Linked DNA regions of Homo sapiens: regions 1 and 3 are each linked to region 2. Evidence: fine-mapped expression QTL. A gene starts in region 2. Each other region holds a variant in brackets. All regions are shown on one strand. Distances are from middle to middle.

The links. PIP is the estimated chance that this variant, and not a neighbour inherited with it, causes the effect. A credible set is the group of variants that fine-mapping cannot tell apart.
Region 1: its variant is the best candidate, but not a certain one, in a credible set for the expression of GAS5 in whole blood (TOPMed, PIP 0.63).
Region 3: its variant is the best candidate, but not a certain one, in a credible set for the expression of GAS5 in esophagus muscle (GTEx, PIP 0.64).

Annotation. Positions count from the first base shown.
Region 1 is chr1:174,384,085-174,388,332 of GRCh38, forward strand. All of the region lies in intron 12 of RABGAP1L (RAB GTPase activating protein 1 like), which reads left to right. Among named protein-coding and RNA genes, the nearest start is that of GPR52, 62 kb to the right of the region's middle. The variant G/GT (reference allele first, on the strand shown) is at 1,872.
Region 2 is chr1:173,866,152-173,870,399 of GRCh38, forward strand. It overlaps GAS5 (growth arrest specific 5), which reads right to left and starts at 1,838. Exons shown (of 12, transcript NR_002578.4): 1 at 1,809-1,838; 2 at 840-892; 3 at 610-645; 4 at 377-416; 5 at 26-55. ZBTB37 (zinc finger and BTB domain containing 37) reads left to right here and starts at 2,229. Exons shown (of 5, transcript NM_001122770.3): 1 at 2,229-2,254; 2 at 2,774-2,969; 3 at 4,049-4,248. The coding sequence starts at 4,075. It overlaps SNORD77 (small nucleolar RNA, C/D box 77), which reads right to left and starts at 219; the gene lies at 150-219. SNORD76 (small nucleolar RNA, C/D box 76) reads right to left here and starts at 564; the gene lies at 484-564. It also overlaps SNORD75, SNORD74 and SNORA103. RefSeq lists a silencer at 2,264-2,673 and enhancers at 2,308-3,507, 4,022-4,121.
Region 3 is chr1:174,215,919-174,220,166 of GRCh38, forward strand. RABGAP1L (RAB GTPase activating protein 1 like) reads left to right here. Exons shown (of 26, transcript NM_001366446.1): 2 at 3,207-3,377. The coding sequence starts at 3,240. Among named protein-coding and RNA genes, the nearest start is that of RABGAP1L, 59 kb to the left of the region's middle. The variant C/T (reference allele first, on the strand shown) is at 1,940.

The sequences.
Region 1 (4,248 bases), 520 kb after region 2:
GCTACTGAGCAATTAAAAGAATGAACTGATATACATTACAACTGATGGATCTCAAGTGCATCATGTTAAGTGACCTATGCCAAAGTCAAGTGACTTAATACTATGTTATTCCATTTGTATGAAATTCTGGAAAAGTCAAAACTATCATCATAGGAAGCATGTCAGTAGTTGTTAAGGACTGGTGGTATTGACTACAAGAGGGTCCAGGGAATTTGGGTATGGGGGGAATGAGGGAACTATCCTGTATCTTGGTTATGGTAGTGCTCACAAACCTATGTGCATTTGTCAAATCTCACAGAATTGTATACTAAAAATGTGAATTTTACTCTGTATAAATTGTGCCTTAAATAAATGACAAAAAAGAAAAAAAAGCCCTGAGTTTTAACTGCAGTAGGTGCTGAAGCAAGAATAGTGTCACTAAACCAAAAAAAAGGAAAAAAAGGAAAAAAAAAAAGAAATTTATGTCTTATACATAGATGGCTATTTGAAGTGTGTTCTTTTCTCTTGTCAGAACAGTGCCTTCATTATACCTTGCATATCCATTTTTCTCTCTTTATTTTGTAATATTTATTATAGGTAACTCTGTCTTAACTAACTTCTCTCTTCTTATCCTGCAAAGTTATGTCAAGTGCACATGACCTCCTTAAAGTCACTGTTGTTTTAGAGACATCTCCTGCAGTTTCTAGAGTATAGTAGGTGCTCAATTCATATTTATTGACTGAATTTTTTGATGAAATATCTCTTACCACTACAGATTTCTGTCCAATTTTATGAACATTTTATATATCTATATTTGGTAATTAATTATCTTGTCTTATATAGTGTTTTAAGAAATCTAAGTTGTAATATTCTCTATTAGGTTATACATAGATTTATTTATCTTATATCTGGCTTCATCTTGAACCCTGGGAATGTTACTTGACTAATTTGTGTCTTGATCATGTCATGGTGAGATATTTTGATTTAGCCATTTTAAAAACATCATTCTGACTGCCCAGTGAAAAATGGATTATAAGGGAACAAAGGTGGAAGCAGGCAGATTAGGAGAATGCTATTGTAAATAATCCAGGGGAGAGATAATTACATGTTGCACTAGGCTGGTAGCAGAGGGTGACATGTGATCGGATTCTGGATATATTTTAAGAGAGTACTGACTGTATTTGCTTCTCTTTTCTGTGTGGCCTGAGAAAAATAAATAACTGGCCACTGATGTCAGAGTTTTTGGCTTGAGCTACTAGAAGACTTGCTGTTTACTCAAATATAGAAGAGAGATTTGGAGGATAAAATCAAGATTTTGGAGATGTTGAGATGCATTTAAGACATCCAAGTGACTATGTCCATTAATCAATTTCATGTAACATTGAGTTCAAGGAAAAGATAGGGAAGGAAATATGAGTTTGGGAGTCATCAGTATATAGATGGTTTTTAAAGCTGTTAGAATGAAATGGGCGAGATTACTTACGGAGTGAGTTTAGATGAAGACATCATCCGAAGACATCATCCAAAGACTGCACCCTCGACCACTCCAGTGTTTGGGAGTTGGACGTATGAGGAGGATCAGGCAAAGGAGCCCAAGAAAGTACAACCAGTGAGGTGGGAGGAGAATCAAGATAGAAATCCAGTAAACTAAGTCTATCAAGAATGACACAGTAGTCAAGTGCTGATAGGTGAAGTCTGATGAAGCCTAGAATTCCACTGGATTCAACAATTTAGGTGTCACTGGTGATCTTAAGAACAGTTTCAATGGAGAGGCAGGAATGAAAGCCCAGCTGGATTGGAAATCAGCAGATATAGATAGCTCTTAAAAATAGTTTTGCTATAAAAGGATGATAGGAAACGAGGACACATTAGTAAGTGGATGTGGGTTGAGA[G/GT]TTTTTTATTAAAATGGGCAATATAGCATGTTTGTATGTTGTTAGAAAGGATGTAACAGAAAATTTGATAGTGTCAGAGAAAGAGGACATAATTGTAGGATAATTTGATGAATAGGCAAGAAAAGATGTATATGTTGACTAGTGGAGGGGTTGAATTTGGGAGCAGAGATAGCTCATTGTAACGGAAGGAAAGGTGAGGCATGGCTACAGAGGTAATAACTGACAGTTCAGTGTACTTACTATGTGCCAGGTTCTGTTCTAAGCACTCTCCATGTGTTAATTTAATTGTTGCAGCAGCTCTCTGAGGTAGGTATTATTATATCTTCATTTTAGAGGTGAGAGAACTGAGGCATAGCTATATTAGGTAGCTAGTGTAAAAATACAGAAAACAAAATGGCAGCAACTAAGTAACTTGCTCAAGATCTCACAGCCAATAAGTAATTTGCCCATGATCATATCAAGTAAATGACAGAGCCAGTTTCTGAATCTAAACCACTCTGGTTTTAGAGCCAGAACAGGGTGTGTGTGTGTGTGTGTTTGTGTGTGTTTGTGTTTTCTTTTTTTTTTTTGAGATGGAGTTTCACTCTTGTTGCCCAGGCTGGAGTGCAATGGGGCGATCTCGGCTCACTGCAACCTCCACCTCCTGGGTTCAAGTGATTCTCCTGCCTCAGCCTCCTGGGTAGCTGGGATTACAGGTATGGGCCACCACGCCTGGCTAATTTTTTGTATCTTTAGTAGAGACGGAGTTTCACCATGTTGGCCGGGCTGGTCTTGAACTCCTGACCTCATGATCTGCCTGCCTTGGCCTCCCAAAGTGCTGGGATTACAGGTGTGAGCCACCGCACCGGCCTAGATTAGTTTTTATAAGAGCATGTAGAAGTTCTAGTGAGTAAGTGAATAAACTAGGAAAATCGATAACCCTGGCCCAGGCAGTACTTGAAGCTTCTAGTCATGATTTTAAAGAGAGATTATGAGAATGGCAGTATGGTGGGTAAGAAAACAAAATATTTTGATGACTAAATAAACAGTCAAATAGAGATCTCCACTCAGTTTCTAAAATGCAAGATTTATTACTTGCTTCAATATAAATTTATGAGGCATCATCTTAGACTCTTAGAGTTACATAGAAAACAACATAGTTTCTACCTTTGAGGTTTATAATCAATGTAGGTGGGAATGCATACTCATAAGAGATTATTTAACAAAGTAACTGAAACACTGAGGCTGTTTCACATTTCTTGACCACTTTTTTTCCTGTAAAACAAGTCACTTCATTCATTCATTCATTCAACTTTTAAGTCTTAATCATCTATTCTTTCTTGGGGACTTTAACAGACACTGCTGATTTAAAGATGAGTAAGGATAGTTTCTACCCTCAAGGTTTACCATGTTATAGAGGCATGCAGACCTTTAAACAGAAAATTGTGATATTATCAATAAATCCTTCTGTAAGCATTGTAGACCTAATGGAAATTTTTGAATGTACACAGAAATAAAATAATACAATGAAGTCTCATGTGCCCACTGCCCAACTTCAATAAAGACAATATCTAACAAATTTCTTTAAGCTGAGACTCCCATTGGGTTTTTCTTTTTTTTTTTTGGAAGGTAATATTGGAGTAGGAAGAACATTGATTAACAGAGAAACAAATTGGGAAGTAATTGCATGGGTTGATGATATTTATACCAGACTCACTGACCCTATGTACAGAGATGAGGCTCCAAATGGGAAAAGACTTCTGAGGTAGAAATGACAGGGTTGCTCAGCTGAAATTCAGTGTACATTTTTTTCAGAAATAAAATATTTCTAATAATATTTTTATTAATGGACTTTAGGAAATTATTTAAAGATCTGAGGGAACTGTTTTAAAAAACTAACATAATTGATTCTTAGACCTTTAGAAAACTTGTTGGATTTTTTACAATTCAAATTTTTTTTATTTGGGCCATTATTATAATTATGTCATGATATGAAAAGGGTAACATTTGTGTAAACTACAGAAGTATAAACTACTATGTCTTTTATACGAGGATTGTCAAATATTTTTAATTGTGCTCAAATTTCTTTTTGAAACATTCGATTTAGAAATTTCCTAAGTGTCGGGAAAAATAGGTAGGCATTTACATATAGACATTTTTGTGATTTATGTAGGTAAAGCACCTGTCATGTGGAGTCCTACACTTTGTGCTTTGGGGAAATATTTTTTAAAGTGAGGATACAGTATATATGCTCAGTGAAATTTTAAACGTGTTTGAAAAGATTTTGAACTTACTCTTAAATAGCTAGATCATTCTTTTAAAAAAGCAAAACATGAATAAAGTCAGAATTCTTATAATTAAATACACTATCAGAAAGATGTAAAGGAAAAATATTTCA
Region 2 (4,248 bases):
CTTACTTGGATACAGTTTCACTTACCATTTCAACTTCCAGCTTTCTGTCTAATGCCTGTAATTTTAATACAAAATTGTCAGCAAAAAATATTTTAATGGTAGATTGGTGGTACACTGCTTAACCATTAACAGCAAACCACAACTACCCCAGATACATCAGACAGATAGTACATCTCTTCATGATTAAATCTGCTGAACTATGCAACCATCATAGTATCTGTTTTCACATTTTCTTCAGTATTAAACTTAGTATCAATATGAGAGCAAAATTCTCATTTGAAAAGAGGGGAGAGAAGCACTAACATAGATAATCATCATTGCTTTGGCTATTTTCTAATCCCTTAAAAGTGAGAAGTACAAAATAGAGGTGTCTCACCTGTGTGCCAATGGCTTGAGTTAGGCTTGCTCTTTAGGACCTGGGAAGAAACAACTTCATGTGAACTTAGGTGTACTCTCTATGTTCCCCAACTCACCATTTTGGGTGCCTCAGTTAAGATAATGGTGGTTAAGATCCTCATCATTCTAGCACTCAAGAGTAGCAAATAAACTGTCATCATTGTGGCACATCCAATGGCTTTAAACCTTTTTGAGAGGGAATTTTCAACTTACTTCAGTAGCTATTCTCATCCTTCCTTGGGGACACAACTAGAAAACAAAAAGATGCAAGCAAAACAGTGAGAATGAACCTCACAGCAGTCACGTTAAATATAAATGCTGTTAACATTAAAGCCTCAGAATAGAATTTCAGAAATCCCTTCTGTCCACTACTCTTAAAGCATCACAGGCTGAGACCACCTCTTAGATTTCATTCTTCCCACCATACTTTCCCCAATTCTTACCTGTCCATAAGGTGCTATCCAGAGCCACACTGCATCTGCACCCAGCACCATACCTAAAGAGATCAGGTACAGATTTTAATTCATTGTTCCACGGTTCTTTTTTTTAAAGAGTGTTCTTTAAAAAAACGGTTCGTCTTTTTAAACCAATGATGCAGGTAACATACCATTCATTATCTAGCGACAGGTAAAGGATACACTTAATGTTACAAAGAAGCACTGCACCCGCAGTTAAGAACCACCGATGGCGGCCGGGCGCGGTGGCTCACGGCTTGTAATCCCAGTATGTTGGGGGACCACGGCTGGTGGATCACCTGAGGTCAGGAGTTCAAGACCAGTCTCGCCAACATGGTGAAACCCCGTCTCTACTAAAAATATAAAAGCCTAGCATGGTGGCGCGCGCCTGTAGTCCCAGTTACTTGGGAGGCTGAGGCAGAACTGCTTAACTCGGGACGCGGAGGTTGCCATTAACCGATGTCGAGCCACTGCATTCCAGCCTGGGTGACAGAACGAGGCTCGGTCTCAAAAAAGAAAAAAGAAACACTAATGGAAATATTGGTGACACTGCGGAATGCAGGCACTTAAGCACGTGGACTACCACCGACAGCCTTTCATGAGAGCGGACGGCTGATGGAGGCTCGGGTCACGGCCCTTAACAATAGCTTACTCGGGTGACTCGGCATGTGCCACCATCAGAGCGGTTGGCATTCATCATTACTCTCAGATGTCCCTACCAACACAGGCTTCATCAGAGGCAGGGCACGAGAGCCGAGGCTTCTCCGCAGTTCTACTCTAACATAGTCGCAGCTTAGGTCACGCATGCACCATATGTGCAATCCCCCACCATCCTCAACTTGTAGGCCCTGCAAAGGCGCGCGACTGGCTTAGAAGTCCCAGTCAATTCAGGGTGACCTTAGCAGACAAAGGCTGGAGCGCCCCAAAACCCGCAACATTCGCAAAGATAAAACATACCTCACAGGAGTCGACTCCTACCTCGAAAAGACAGTATGGTGCCTGGGCTCCTGTATATAAGAGTTCTTTTGATGACGTCACGACGCACGCTCCCGGCAGCGTCCGCTTCGGCTCCTCCCCCTAACCTCCCTCAATCTTCCTCTCATCCAGTATCACCTTCTTCCCACCCCTTAAGTCCGCCCCTTTTCCCCGCCCTTCCTCGCCATTGTGGGCAGAGACATGACCGTCCACGTGATGCCGTGCTCCCGCCCTCCTCCCGACTGAGGAGGAAGAGCAGAGAGGGGAGGGGGCGCGAGGCAAGGAAAGCTCTGGGGATGGGGGAAGGGGGGGCGGTGTAAGGCTGAGTGATTTCCTTCCGGCACGTCGCCCGCTCCGTGGGAGGGGGTGGGGGATTTCACTTCCGGGACGGTGTTCCGGCCCATTCCGGCCCATTTCCACCCCCGGAGGTAGGTGCTGCTCCTTGACTGGACTCGGGCCCCACACCCCAGTGCCACTTCCCTGCACCGGGGTCACCTCGCCCGCCCTCCGCCGCAGCGCGCTCCTGGGGCGCTCAGCTACTTTCCTTCACCCCGCCTCCAGGCACCGGGCGACCTTCCACCCCCTTGGCCCCCGGCCGGGCTGATCTGCCGGACCCGCCCCCTCGCGGGGCCCCTCCCTCAGGACCCCGGGAAGGGCGGCCCCCTCCCCCACCGCAGCCGGGACACACCCAGATACGCACACCCACCTCCTGGCAGCTCCCCGCCCGCCGCCGCCTGGAGCCGGTCCCTGGGCGCCGCCCCCTTCCTAGTTCTCACCTGAGCGCTGGCTCCCCCGCCCGACGCCTTGTCCCCATCTTCTCCGAAGTTCCTCAGTGACATTTTGCCCTTTAGCCAGTTCCCCTCTCCCCAGGCTTCCTAACGCAGAAGAAAGCTGCTCAAGTGCTGGAGTGGCCAACCCCATGCCGTTCCCAATTCTCCCTTTTACAGCTCTCACCCCTCCAGTGCCGACGGTAGCGAAAGACTTTCCTCCAGGGGCTTCCTCACTGGGGAATTGCCGGAAAGAGCAAACAAAAAAGGCGCTGGTGTAGGCTCCAAAATAAACACATCTGAATTCATGATGGCATCGACAGAGGCTCTTATTGGATTAAAAGTTTCAAAACAAACAATAACGCTTTGGAAAAAGGTCAGATTGGCTAAAGTTGATTGTTGAAAACAGTGTATACACTTCCCTATTTAATAAGTGTGTTGTTAATGCGGGGCAGTACTGTGAGCTTGGCAGAGTAAGTTCCTGAAGTTTCAGGTGTGGTGTAACTATGTAATATATAGATAAGTGAACGCACATTGGGCTTAAGTAAATGTCTTCCTGTTCGGATTTATACAAACTATTTTCAGTAGTTGAAACTGTACTTTCAACTATCTTGTATACAGCTTCAGGTTTAGTGTTTCAGCCATTTTTTAAAAATATTTTAATGGAAAAATGTTGGCATACTTGGTAAATGCTGTATTTTTTCATCGGATCTGGAGAACTAAGTTTCAGGATGGAAGTATTCATCACCACCTCGGAATTGCCAACTTCGAATTTGGCAGATTTACCCAGCTTTCCTAATTTTGACAACTGAACTTCACATTCTCTGCATCTTGGTTGAATCCTGGCACAGCTGTGGGATTTTTCCTAGAGTTTGCTTCACAGCCCTATAACCAAAGTCTTTTTGTGGGGGGGGCTCTGATTCTTAAGCTTAGAAATATTAGCCTACATTCATGTGGGATATTAGTCCTTTTATAAAATAATAAACATAATTCTTGCAGCAGGTAGTAAAATACTAAGAAGAGGGATATCAAGCTATGTAGAATTGCATTTATTCAGAAAGCTTTCCTCCTCCAGAGAAAAGTTGTAAAGTTATGAGATGTTATATTCAGTCTGCAAGTACCTTATAGTTAACACTTAAAAGTCCTTCCCCCTACCTTCTGTTGAACTTCTGTTTTGATGTTATATAACTTATTAGTAAGGAAAGCATGGTCATAACATGAATTTTTAGGAGTCTAAAGATCACTTTTTAGTTTTAACTATGTCCTCCTGTGAAACTTAAACTGAAAAACCTGTTGGTGATTCTGTTTCCACATCTAAATATAAGGAAGGTATTTCTTTTATCTGGAGATTTTGAAACTTTACCAGATAACTATGTTTAAATACTTTTGAAATGGAAACCATCCGGGAAGTAAAATTATAATTATTAATGAGAATATGGTTTCTTTTTTCAGCAGGGTTGAATGCACCCTCAGGCACGACCATGGAGAAAGGTGGGAACATACAATTGGAGATTCCTGACTTCAGCAACTCTGTCCTGAGCCATCTAAACCAGTTGCGCATGCAGGGCCGTCTCTGTGATATTGTGGTCAATGTGCAAGGACAAGCTTTTCGGGCTCACAAAGTGGTGCTGGCTGCCAGCTCCCCCTATTTCCGG
Region 3 (4,248 bases), 350 kb after region 2:
GATAAAGAAAATGTATACATATACAGTGGAGTACTATTCAGCCATAAAGAAGAAGGAGATCCTGTCATTTTGCAGCAACATGGATGAAAGCAGATGTCATTAGGTTAAGTGAACAGGCACAGAAAGACAAAGTTCACACATTCTCACTTATTTCTGATTGCTAAAAATTGGAATAATTGAACTCATGTAGATAGAGAATTAGAACAATGATTACCAGAAGCTGAAAAGGGTAGTGGGAAGGTGGGATGGGTAAGGGACATGGGGATGGTTAATAGGTATGAAAAAATAATTAGAAAGAATGAATAAAACCTAGTATCTGCTAGCACAGCAGGGTGAATGTAGTCAATTTAATTGGACATTTAAAAATAACTAAGAGAATAATTGAATTGCTTCTAACACAAAGGATAAATGCTTGAGGTGATGGATACTCCATTTGCCCTGATGTGATTATTATGCATTTCATGCCTATGTAAAAGTATCTCACATAACACATTAATATATACACATGTACCCACAAAAATTAAAAATAAAGGAGTAAAAAAGTAATTTTTTAAATAATTTTATACTGCATGTAACCCATGTACAAGTAGTGCCATTACCTTGTAACAGGATATTTCCAATTCCTCCCTCTCTCCCCCTCCCCTTTTTTTTTTTGCCATTGCTGTCATGTTTTTTTTTTTTGTCCATGTGGTATAATCATCCAATACATTTATTCTTCCTTTTATCACATAGATCCACATTTTTGACCTATATAATTTTCTTTCTGTCTGAAGAACTACTTTTAATCTTTCTTTCAAGCCAGATATGCTGGCAATGATTTTTCTTGGTTTTTGCTTGTTTTGGAACTTGTGTGATTAAGGAATTATAATGAGAAAGTGATGGGGGCAAGGGTGTATTGGGCCTTGTAAGTCTTGGGAAGCAGTTTGAATTTTATTTAAATTTTAGTGAAAAGGTTTTGGTCTGGAGTTTTCATGTAATCTAATTTATTTTCCGAAAAAAAATTAAATAAATTGGCAGCTTTGTGAACAATGACGTAGATTGAGGGAAGAAGACTGGAAATAGAAGATGGGTTAGGAGGCTTTTACAGTAGATAAGAGCATTGTTTGGACTAGAGTGGTAGTAGTAGTAGACAGAAAAATGGATAGATGTGAGTCTTATTTTGGAAGTGGGTCTGACATGACTTGCTGATGTGAGGAGTAAAGAAGTGGAGGTGAATCAAGGATGATATCCAGGTTTCGTGTTCAAGTAACTTTGTAGAAGATAGTGGTGTTATTTACTGAAATGGCAAATCGGGACTGGAAACAAGTTTGGAGGAGACATTAGGAATTCCATTTTGGTCATGTTTCATTTAAGATACGATAAGACTTCCACATGGAAATATCAAGTAGAGAGGTGAATTTCAGGGCAGGAATTTAGAGAAGGTATTTGAGTTGGGATAGAAATTTGGAAGACTGTTAGCCTGCAGATGGTATTTTCGTCCATGACAATGACAGACATTACTTAGAGTGTGTGACAAGGGAAAAGGTCAGGATCTGAACTCAGGGAATTTCTAACATTTAGAAATCAGGTAGAGGAGCAGCAACCTGAGAAGGACTTGAAGGATTGACCACAGAAAGACATCTGGAATATGTGGTGTGTTGGCAGTTAAGGATTCATCGTGCAGTCTGGAAGAGTAAAGACCTGGCTTGTAACACATTCTGCATTTTTAGAAACAAAATATACAAAGTGAGAAAAAAACCTTCAGAGGACAGATGAATGTCGCTTGGGTTTTAAAAAGGAAGGGTGTTAACATGCATAACAGAAATAAATGATGGCTAGCTAATTACACTGGTCCAGGAGTATGGTTATTCTTTATTTTGATATTCTTGAAATTTTTGATTTTTTATAAAGTTGGAAAGTAATTACTTTTTAAAAGATACACATGTAACTTGAAGCTAGA[C/T]TCATTCTTTTTATTGCCAAGAGTAATGGTGTTAGTGTCACCTAATGGCAAAATGGAATATTGCAGCTATACTTATAGGCTATAATGAAAAGGTAACCTAATTAGAAAGAAAAATAACATTTCTGGGGGGATTTTAGGCATGGATCAGTAGACTTACTATGGCTTACAAGGTCCCGTGTTCTTTAGCCCTAGCCTGCTTGTCCTGCCCCTCTATCACATTACTCATTTGGTCACTGAGCAGATTGTGTAATAGTAGGGTTCTTTTTTGTCTTTCAGGTTTAGGCTCAGATATTTTCCTCTCAGAGAGCTTTTTCCTACCACCTTAATTTGTCCGTATACTTCCCATAGCTACTGTTTGTCACATTAACGTGTTTATTGTTTGCATAGCCTTTAGAGTGACTTGGAATCACCATTTGCTCCCTTTTTATTTGTTTTCTTACTAGTATGTAAGCCCCAGAAGTGCAGGCTACTTGTTTTCCTTATTCACTTAGGTAACCTCAGGGCTGAGTTGTGTCTGTTATATAGTGTATGTCTGCAGTTAAACTTAGTTGTGTGAGTACATGAACTTCTGGATATGATAGTGAGTGTTGTTTCTATGCTGTAGAGATCTATCCAGAAAACAGAATTACACTGTGTTTGATTACTGAAACATTATTTGCTACGTGAAGGCAATATAGAAGCTTTTTTCTTTTTCTTTTTGGTGTTAATAAGTGATAATGTGTCAGGAAAGAGAAGCTATATGTCTTAGGATGTTGAATTCTGTATTAGTCAACTTTAGTTACTCAGAAAAAATATTTGCAGGTACAATATTCGGTCTTGAGGAGATAAGTTTTTTTTTGAAGCATTTAGATTTAATTAATATAGCAGTGTCAGTGAATATGGTTTTGTGTCTGTGTGTGCATTTGTAGGTATTTCTAGTATCATTTAATTATTTCCTCTATTAAAAAGAAAACAGTATTTCTAAGAGAAATGAGAGTGAGTGTGTCAGGTAAACAGTGATAAATCTGGTTGAGATATGGACTGGTTTGTGTAAATTTTTAGGTAACAATATGGCTCTATTAGTCTGGAAACTTAGGATGAAGAGAGAGTACATTTCCATTAAGTGGCTCAGTCCAAGAAGGTAGCCTCCCTAACTTTGAGATAATTATCTAGCCAGCAGGATTCTTCTTCACATAAACCATTTTTAAAGCTTTATTAGTTCATGTTTTTAATTAGTTCATGTTTTTAATCAGTAGGTTTTTTTTTTTAATCCCTTTTGTTTTTCCAGGTGGTTGTGGGAAGAGAAGTTTGCAGAACTGAAATGGAGGTCAGAGCTTCATTACAGAAGGTTAGTGGATCATCTGATTCTGTGGCTACAATGAACAGTGAAGAATTTGTTTTGGTTCCTCAGTATGCAGATGATAATTCTACAAAACATGAAGAAAAACCTCAACTGAAGGTATTTTTTTCTTTTCTACATATGGTATAATTTTTAATTAAAAACTATTTGAAACTTAGGAGATGTGTAAAATGCAAAGGTTTTTCTCAAGTGCTGACTTTCAAAATAAAATCAATGTTTGATTTATCCAGACCCTAATTATTTGGTTTGTGTATTTTAAAAAGTTCTTGCTTTTGGTTGTTTACCTTTTGATTTGGAATTTTAGGGGGAAGAATAAAAGAAGAAAAAGAAGAGAAAGGATTTTTTGGTGAATTAGACATAATGGTTAAATTTTACATTACTTTATCTGGATGTTTTTGTTTCTCTTACTGCTGGGTTTTAGAAGTTAATTAAATGTTTTGCTTTCACTTGAGAGACTTTTTTCTTTATGATTTTTATGTTTTAAATCAGCTGGTAACGTTCCGTTGTGTGATTTAACAGTCGACTTGTCTAAATGTTTTTAAAGCATATCTTATATTTTTAGCATTTGAGTTTTTATTTAGATATGGTCCCTTTTTCACTTCTGTGTTGCACTTTCTAAGTCAAAGAAAAGGAAGCAAGTAAACTCAGTTATATAGGCTTGAAAATGGTATAACTGTCTTCTAGAAACAGGAATAGGAAAAGTAGTTAAAAGTGCTATATATTACTTATGACTTTTATTTAGTATTAACTATGGCATCAAAAGTGTATTAATATATCAGTCTAATAAAATATATTCTGAAAATGAGATTACTAAATGTTTATGTTGAGAATATATTGTTTTATAATTTTATTTAAATAATCAGTGGCTTTATTTTTAGATACCTGTATTTTAGCATTATTGTGTTTAAGACATCACTTATTTGCTTAGGCTTTGTGTTTCACCTGCCTTTGAGAAAACTATGAGTCAACT